3 separate regions of the Homo sapiens genome follow, and regions 2 and 3 are each linked to region 1. The links come from fine-mapping of genetic effects on gene expression. A gene starts in region 1. Each other region holds a variant in brackets. All regions are shown on one strand. Distances are between the middles of the regions. Region 1 holds the start of AAR2 (AAR2 splicing factor). Region 2 has its middle 51 kb from the start of NORAD. Region 3 overlaps EPB41L1 (erythrocyte membrane protein band 4.1 like 1).

Region 1 (2,756 bases):
ACTCCAGCCTGGGGGTCTGAGCGAATTCCGTCTCAAAATAATAATAATAATAATAATAATAATAATAATAATAATAATAATAATACGTATCATCTTCCTATTTGTAATCCTGAATTCAGAAAGTATTTAATATTTGCTGAATGAACAGATATTCCATTTACAATAACAGCTCATCAATTAGCCATTTTCCCTTGTGACATCTGTGTGCTCCTCCTTGATAATGACGTTTCTTTCATGCTAATTCCACCAGTCTGTAATTCTATTCACTATATCTCCAGCAGCTGGCACAGGGCCTAGCACAGAGGAGATGCTAGGAAAACGTTTATTAAATATGCATAGAACTCTGCAGTCTACCAGCCCCTGTCACTGACAGCTCTGTGAGTTCCTCACAGTCCTGGAACACCTAAAGTCACATCCATCCACTTCTCTCCACCACCTCCCTAATCCAAGCTACCATCGTCCCTCACTCAGAGTGCTTGCTCCTCAACCCATTCTCCATTCAACAGCAGTAACCTTTTCAAAATGCCAATCTAATCACAACACCACCCATGTCAGCTTCTGAGTGGTTTCCCATATGGTTCTTGAAAAACCAGAATTCTTCCTATTACCTACAAAGCCTGCACGGTCTGACTCCTGGCAACCCCTTTAGCTTGTGTCACACAATGGTCCCCCACAAGCTCTCTGTTCCAGCCACAACGGCCTCTTTCAGAACCTGAAATTGGAGGCTGTCTCCATATAGAAAACTCTTCCCTCCCCACTTTGTCAAATCCTTTTTTCTGATCTCAGCTCAATATTCACCTCCTCAGTAAAGGTTCCTTGCCCTGGGGCTAGGTCAGGTCTCCTGTGATATAATCTGGGGTGCCTTGTACCTTTCCGTCTCAATGATCACAACTGCAGTTTTGGATGTTTGATTGAAGGCTGTCATCGCCACGAGACTTGAGTCCTGCTGTATCCCTAGCACAGATTCAACGCTTAGTAAACATTTATTTAATACAAGTATGATATCCATTTTGTAAACGAGAAACAAAGCCTCAGTTCGGGGAAAGACCTTACTGGAAGTCACGCAGAGAGTAGGGCAGAGCCAGGTCGAGTGCAATCAGGGTCTCCGGCCCCCAGGCTCTAAAGTTAAGAAAACCGCGACGTAACTCTGGCGACGGCTTCTCAGGAAGGGCCTCCAGAGACACCAGCGTCCCACAAACAGAGAACCAGCCGCCCCGGCGAGGTGGGCCTAGTTCAAGGCACTCCGTGACTCTGAGCCGAGAAGAGGGGCGGCCCAGCCACACATACACAAGGAATCAGGAAAGGAAAAAGAGGCCAGGAGGCCACACTCACCGCCTCGCCCCACGTTCCGGTACAGCGGAAACGCACCGGAAGTTCTCCAGCTTTGGCGTCTGACTGGAGCGACGGGGGAAGCGGTCCGGCAGAGCCCTGGGTCGCGGGAAGAATGGCCCGTGCCTGCAGGTTCCGCCGGATGCAAGGTTGCCTTTTGTTATTCTTAGTTTCTCGTTTTAGCTTCTGAATTGTGAACAACTTTCATTAACCTATGCATTTTATATCCCCGTCCAGAAACACAGCCACCAGCCATCTTACTTTGGGCTCAAGCAGTCATGGTCACTAAAGCACAGCCAAGGCTTGTACCAGTGGCTACTATTCAGAAGTAGCCAGTCAGGCGCTCGGTCACTGTCTTTGTCAGCCAGTCTCTATCCCGGTCACAGTGTCTCAGCTTCCAGTCACACTCAGCCCTCGGGGAGAGCCTCAGAAACCCAGCCACCAGCCCAGAGAGAACCAGCGTCAGCCTCCGCTGCTGCAGCAGCAGCGGTCGCCACCTCAGTCCCTCTGGCCATTATCACCCCGTGTCCTTCCTGCAGGCCAAGTCCTAACATCTCAGTCAGGCTATCAACGCACTAGGGAAGGAATCTGCCTGTCTTGTTCCTCACTGTTTCCCTGGAACCGAGCACAAAGCCAGGCACAAAAGCTCAGCTGAGTACATATATTATGCATTTAATTAATAATGATGATAATTTGGTATTAATAAATAACTATTTGTGGGTCTAACCCTGCACTATTAATCAGGGTTCCACCAAAGATACAGAGCCAGTAGGAGATCTATATTAAGTGATTTATTGCCAAGAATTGGCTTATGTGATTTTAGGGCAGGCCACTTGGGTATTTCTTTTTTTGAGACGCAATCTCACTCTGTCACCCAGGCTGGAGTGCAATGGCGCTATCTCGGCTCACTGCAACCTCCACCTCCTGGGTTCAAGCCATTCTCCTGCCTCAGCCTCCCAAGTAGCTGGGATTACAGGCGCCCACCACCGTGCCTGGCTAATTTTTGTATTTTTAGTAGAGACGGGGTTTCATCTTGTTGGCCAGGCTGGTTTCGAACTCCTGACCTCAGGTGATCTGCCCACCTTGGCCTCTCAAAGTGCTGGGATTACAGGCATGAGCCACCGTGCCCGGCCCACTTGGGTATTTATAATCCTTGCACTAACCCTTGTAAGGTATGTGTATTCCCAATTTGCAGAAGAGAAAACTGAGGTTCAAAGAGATGTTACACAGCCAGAGAATGGCAGAGCTAGAATGCAAACCAAGGGCTGTCTGTTCTTATCTCTTGTGCTGCTGCTCCTTAGCTTGTCTGTCACATTTCCTCAGTGACAGCTGGACACGCCAATCTGTCTCGGTCAAAATTTATCTCTTAGTGGGTTGCAGACTAGACCGGGCCCTGCAGTCATGGTTAATCACAATGAGCTGCTGCA
Region 2 (2,756 bases), 130 kb after region 1:
CTGAGCTGAGCCTTGAAAAGGCAGACAGGATTTCAACAGTGATTGGGGAATGGAGGGGGTGGCATTCTTGGCAGGGAGGAACAGAGGGAGCTAGGGCAAAGACATAGGAAGCACTGGGTGTGTCCCAGGAGCCTCAGGAAATTAGTTTTCGCAGCCCTCCCCTTGGCACTGACCCACATGTCCAGCTCTGAACAGAGGTCACCTTGAGCTTCCCCAGATTCACAGGCACCTTGCTCAATTATGGTGAGTGGGGACGGAAAGGGAGAAAGGACTTGAGCATTTGGGCATGTGGTCAGACAGAAGGGACTCAAGGGGCCAGAATGCAGGCTGTGTCCAGAATCTCTGAAGATGGAAGATGCAAAAGTGGGAGGTCCCCCCAGTGGTGGGTGAAGCCAGGGAGGAGCAAGGAAAAGGACAAAGAACTTGGACTGGGCAGCAGGAGACCTGACTTCCAGAACCACAGATCAAAGCTGCATGGAAACTTGGGATTATCCTGTCCAACCCCCATTTTACAGCTAGGAAAACTGAGGCCCAGACAGAGGGACAGGTCTACAGTCCCTGACCACCTTCACAGCAAAGCCAGTAATGTGCTGAGAGGCATGAGAGACCAGCCCTCTCCACCCAGCTCTGCCATTGGCTCCCTGGTGACCTTTCTCTAGACGTTAGGCTCCAACTGCGCAAAACAACCCTGAAGACAGCAGTTCTAAAGTTGTATGGGTTGTGACTCCAAGACAGACGGTGCCTGTGGATCCTCTCCTAGGGACAATGCACACTCTTAACATTGTGCATGCCATATTTCAGAAGTTCATGAACATCTGAGGCCAGCCTTCTACAAGGGCAATCTGAGAACCATCTGTGTCCCAATCATCTCGATGGGGAGACTGTTACAGCAGGCTGCTTCCGGGGCCCTACCTCGGATCTGACGCCCACCCCCCACCCCGCCCATGGAGCAGCTGGGTTTGAATCTCTTGGGTGAGGTCTGGAAAAAGAGTGCTGGGTTTTTTTGTTTTTTTTGTTTTGTTTTGTTTTGTTTTGTTTTGTTTT[T/GTTTTGTTTTT]TGAGACAGAGTCTCACTCTGTCACACAGGCTGGAGTGCAATGGTGTGATCTCAGCTCACTGCAACCTCCGCCTCCCAGGTTCAAGCGATTCTCCTGCCTCATCTTCCCTAGTAGCTGGGATTACAGGTGCATGCAGCCATGCCCAGCTAATTTTTGTATTTTTAGTAGAGACAGGGTTTCACCATGTCAGGCTGGTCTCGAACCCCTGACCTCAGGTGATCCACCTGCCTCAGCCTCCCAAAGTGCTGGGATTACAGGCATGAGCCATGGCACACAGGTTTTGTTTTGTTTTATTTTGCTTTTTAGCATGCTCACCTTTGTTGCTCTTAGGGGGAAACAAAGTTTGAGAGGCCCAGCCTTAGGGAACCCTAGGAGGGAGGGGAATGGGGTGGGGTGCTAAGCTGCTCCCCCTTTTAGGTGTTTCACAAATTGAACTTCTGCTCCCTTGCCTATGAAGAGTGGCTCTGTGGATAGAAGTTTCAAAGCCACCACTCCTTCACCAAGGTCCCTTCTGACTGAGCCACCTGCTCAGGCAGGCAGGTGGCTGGGCTGAGCCAGGCTGACCAACATAATGGTCTCGGTTGGGGTGGGTGGAGGCTCAACAAGCTGACTGCAGCTGCCCAGATTCCTGAGTGACAGTCTGAGACCAGCAGCCCTGACTGGGAGGGAGTCTGGACTCCCGGGCTGCACATGGGGTGAGAGCAGGTTTCCTATTCCTCCCTCTCTCCAGGCCACCTCCCTCTGGCCCTCAGGCCAGCTCCTTTTTTTCTTCTGGTGGATATGTACCTCTGAACCTGGGTCTCCTGGCTCCGGTCTCTGCCTCCCTCCCCACTTCTTCCAGAGTTCCACCCGTCACTGAGCCTGCAGCATATCCAAGCTCCCAAGCAGTCTTGTGAGGAGACAAAAGTAATGCTCTTTGCAAATGATATGCTTCTTTAAGTGGAAGACTCGATTCAATGAAAAATTGAGGTGGCCAGAGACAAAACAATAACTAGGAAAAAAGGCAAGTACCTTCAGATGGGCCCTGTCACCACCCCCCATACCGATGCAGTGTCTCTCCTACAGGTGGGCAGCTGCCTAGAACCAGATGGGCTCAGAGCCTTGGCGGGCCCCAAGGCTGATGCTGTAGAAAGGCCAGTCCCGGAGGTGCTGCCAGAGTGCAGGCCTGGGAGGGAAGATTCCTCGATTGGAAGCCCTTCTTTCAGAGTCAAGAATTTGTTCTCTGAATTTGAGCAAATGCATGCCCCTCTGTGGACACCTAAATGCTCCCGCAGGCTCTGTCACAGGCCATATAGGAAAGACTCAAGAGTACCGGTGGGCTTCGGACAGATCTAGATTGAAATCCCAGCTGTGCCACTTGCTGGCTGAGGACTGCGTAGGCCTTGGGCAAGTTATTTAGCCTCCTGTAATACGACGGGGATCATCATCTCTGCCTCACTTGGTAGTTGTAAGGATTAAAAGACATAAGGCATGTAAAGCGCTTAGCACAGGGCCTGGCACACAGTAAGCCAATAAACATAAGCAGTTGATTATAAGTCACCAGAGTGAGCCTCTTATGAGGAAGACTCTAGACTTTCTAATTCTAGGTGGCCTCAAGCAAACCCAAAACCACCCACCTGAAGTGGGCCTGGAGACTCTATCTTTAGACCTCTAATCTGGGGACAAGGTGGGGAGAGGGAAGGGGAGAAAGCAGACAGAAGGGAGAGAGCAA
Region 3 (2,756 bases), 57 kb after region 1:
CTTTACAGAGGAGGAAACCAAGGCACAGTCAACACAAGAAGCAGGTGGAGTTAACATTCAAATCCAGGCAGTCTGGCCTCAGTGTCTGTCTGCTTAACCATCACACCAGATTGCCTCAGGGAAGCAAGAAGAAAACAGCTACTGAGCACCTACTATGTGCTTGGTGCTGTCCATACATATGTCATTGAACTGTCACCCCCACTTCATGAGGCAGGAACTACTAATCCACTGGCCAAGGAGAAGCAGGGGCCCAGAGGGGTGGAAAGCTTGTCCCAGGTGCCCTACTTTGCCCTACCTTGCCCCAGGTGCACTGAGGTTTGGGAGGAGATACACCCAACTCTGAAGCTCAGGCCACAAGGACCAATGGGACCACCTTCAGAAGGCTGAGGTGCTGTCACAGAGGGCAAAAAATTGCTCCACTGGGGCACCAGAAGGTAGGATGAGGATAAATGGCTGGAAGTTACAGGGGTAGAGGCAGAGACTGTGGCTCTCCTGGATAAGGTACTTGCTAGCGATCAAGACTTACTCGATGACTTGGGATGGCTACAAGGAGTGACATCCACCAGGCCTGGGCTGTGCTGGCAGGGGCTGCAGGCCACCTCTGGGAGGGATGCTGAGACCTGACCATTTGGTCCAGCCACCTGTCTTTCCCAAGCTCCTGGTCCTGACCAAACACCACACACTCGGCTGCCTATATGTTTTCCGATCCCTTTAGTCATGAGAGACAGGCCTCCCAGCCAGGCTGGGGCTCCTGGGGGACAGCCTGAAGCCCAGGCGGAGGATCTGTCAGCCCCCCGAGGAGTGCACTCTGTCTGTGTGCCTGCCTCTTTGTCTCCAACTGACAGAACCTTCAGGAAGAATTCCTCGAGCCCCCTCCTGCAGAGTCAGCTGGCATCCCTGGGCCCAGCTGCCCGCTGTCATGGTAACAGGCTCAGCTACAGCTTTCCAGCCAGGGGACCAGGGAGTTCAGGAGAGACCAACCACAGCCAAGGGGGAGGGGCCCTGGGTGGAGGCATCTCTGCCTCGAGGCGCCAGGTCTCCAACTACTCAGGCTGCCTTGCTGAGGCCACCTACCACCCCCTTCTGCCAT[T/C]TGGGAGCTGCCCCATCCCTTCCCGACATGCTTTCTCTCTCTGGGCCAGAAAGGACAGGTTGTTGGCCTGCTCATCTGCCTTCACCCCAGGCCTTGAAAAGAGCACAGGATGGTGTTGGAAGACCAGGCCTCAAGACCTGGCTCAGCCAACATTTGGCTCTGTGACCTTAGGTAATAACTGCCTCTCTCTGGGCCTCTGAGGAAAGGGTCATTGTTTACTGAAGACTACACCATTCCTGGACAGAAGGGTGGCTGTTTCCAGCCCATCTGCTTGTCCTTTGTCCTAGATGGCTCTGCAGGTCCCTTCTAGAGCTGGCGTCCTGAATGTATTTATGATTCCTCTGCTAACCTGCTGTGTGACTCTGCACAGTCGTCTCTCTTCTCTGGGCCTTAGACTTGTCCTTCCCACTCTGGCTTCTCCCAAGATCTGCCATGTGGAGTACACGGACTCATGGATCTGAATGCATTTTCTTTCTTTTTTTTTTTTTTTCTTTTTTCGAGATGAAATTTTGCTCTGTTGCCCAGGCTGGAGTGCAGTGGCATGATCTCAGCTCACCACAACCTCTGCCTCCCAGGTCCAAGAGAATCGCTTGAGGCAGTCCCAGTGCCTCAGCCTCCCGAGTAGCTGGGATTACAAGCACCCGCCACCACGCCCAGCTAATTTTTGTATTTTTTTTTAGTAGGGACAGGCTTTTCCCATGTTGGCCAGGATGGTCTTGAACTCCTGACCTCAAGTGATCCACCCGCCTTAGCCTCGCAAAGTGTTGGGATTACAGGGATGAGCCACAACGCCTGGCCTGAAATGCACTTTCCAAAGGAGGAGAGAGCAGTACAAGGGGGGCTCTCATGGCCTGGAATCCCCTCACCCACCCACCTCCCCAAACACAACAAGCCACTCACTCCGGATCTGCTTCTTGATCTCCTTGGAGGGGTCCAGCCAGTTCTAAAAGAAAAGATAGAGATCTTCAGAGGGAAGACGCAGGAAAGGACCTGACTGGGCTGAGAGAGAGAAATATCCTGAAATGGCTGGTCAGCAGCCCCTTGTAGGGAACGCCCTTCCTTGGCTAAGCCTCTTGGTTCCTTTTCCTTGGGACTAGGGGGTGAGGGGAATGGGGCCAGGATTCACCACCAGGCTTGGACCCAGTGCCCGGAGCTGCCACTGCCCTGAGGCAGTCCCAGTGAGCAGGTGATGCATCTGCAATGGGACTGGCAGGAAGAAGGAAACTCAGAGCCTCCCAAGGGTAGGGGAGAAGCTCTAGCAGGGAGCTCCTCAGCTCCCCCAGCAACTCTAGCAGCCAGACCAGGGCTCTCTAAATTCTCATCTGGGGGTGACCTGTATGTCACCAAGAAATGGCTGAGACAGGGAACCGCAGGTGGATAGGGCTGGTTGAGCCTTGGGGACACGCAAACAGAAGATGCTTAATGATTTGAGCACTAATGGATGCTGTTGGGGGTGGCCAGGATTACAGGAGCCTAACGGAAGAGCAGGTCCCACCCTGCTCCCTAGCCCAGGTACCTTCTGGCTGTCAGCATCACAGAAGGTCAGGCCGAAGTAGTCCTTCTCTAGGAGGTTGAGGTGTTCACAGACCAGGTCAAACAGCACCTGGCCCCGGCCATGTTTCTAAGGAGGGAAGCAGAGCAGCTATGAGGCTGAAGCACACCCCGG

Evidence for each region.
Region 2: its variant is fine-mapped to the expression of AAR2 in whole blood (INTERVAL, PIP above 0.99).
Region 3: its variant is fine-mapped to the expression of AAR2 in whole blood (INTERVAL, PIP above 0.99).

The regions. Positions count from the first base shown.
Region 1 is chr20:36,235,080-36,237,835 of GRCh38, reverse strand. AAR2 (AAR2 splicing factor) reads right to left here and starts at 1,358. Exons shown (of 4, transcript NM_001271874.2): 1 at 1,333-1,358. It overlaps LOC105372602 (a long non-coding RNA gene), which reads left to right and starts at 1,370. Exons shown (of 3, transcript XR_936695.2): 1 at 1,370-1,478.
Region 2 is chr20:36,100,295-36,103,050 of GRCh38, reverse strand. It overlaps a transcript of EPB41L1 not described here. Among named protein-coding and RNA genes, the nearest start is that of NORAD, 51 kb to the right of the region's middle. The variant T/GTTTTGTTTTT (reference allele first, on the strand shown) is at 1,045.
Region 3 is chr20:36,177,907-36,180,662 of GRCh38, reverse strand. It overlaps EPB41L1 (erythrocyte membrane protein band 4.1 like 1), which reads right to left. Exons shown (of 22, transcript NM_012156.2): 4 at 2,607-2,711; 5 at 1,991-2,033. The region is part of intron 2 of LOC124904892 (a long non-coding RNA gene); the gene reads left to right. Among named protein-coding and RNA genes, the nearest start is that of EPB41L1-AS1, 24 kb to the right of the region's middle. The variant T/C (reference allele first, on the strand shown) is at 1,091.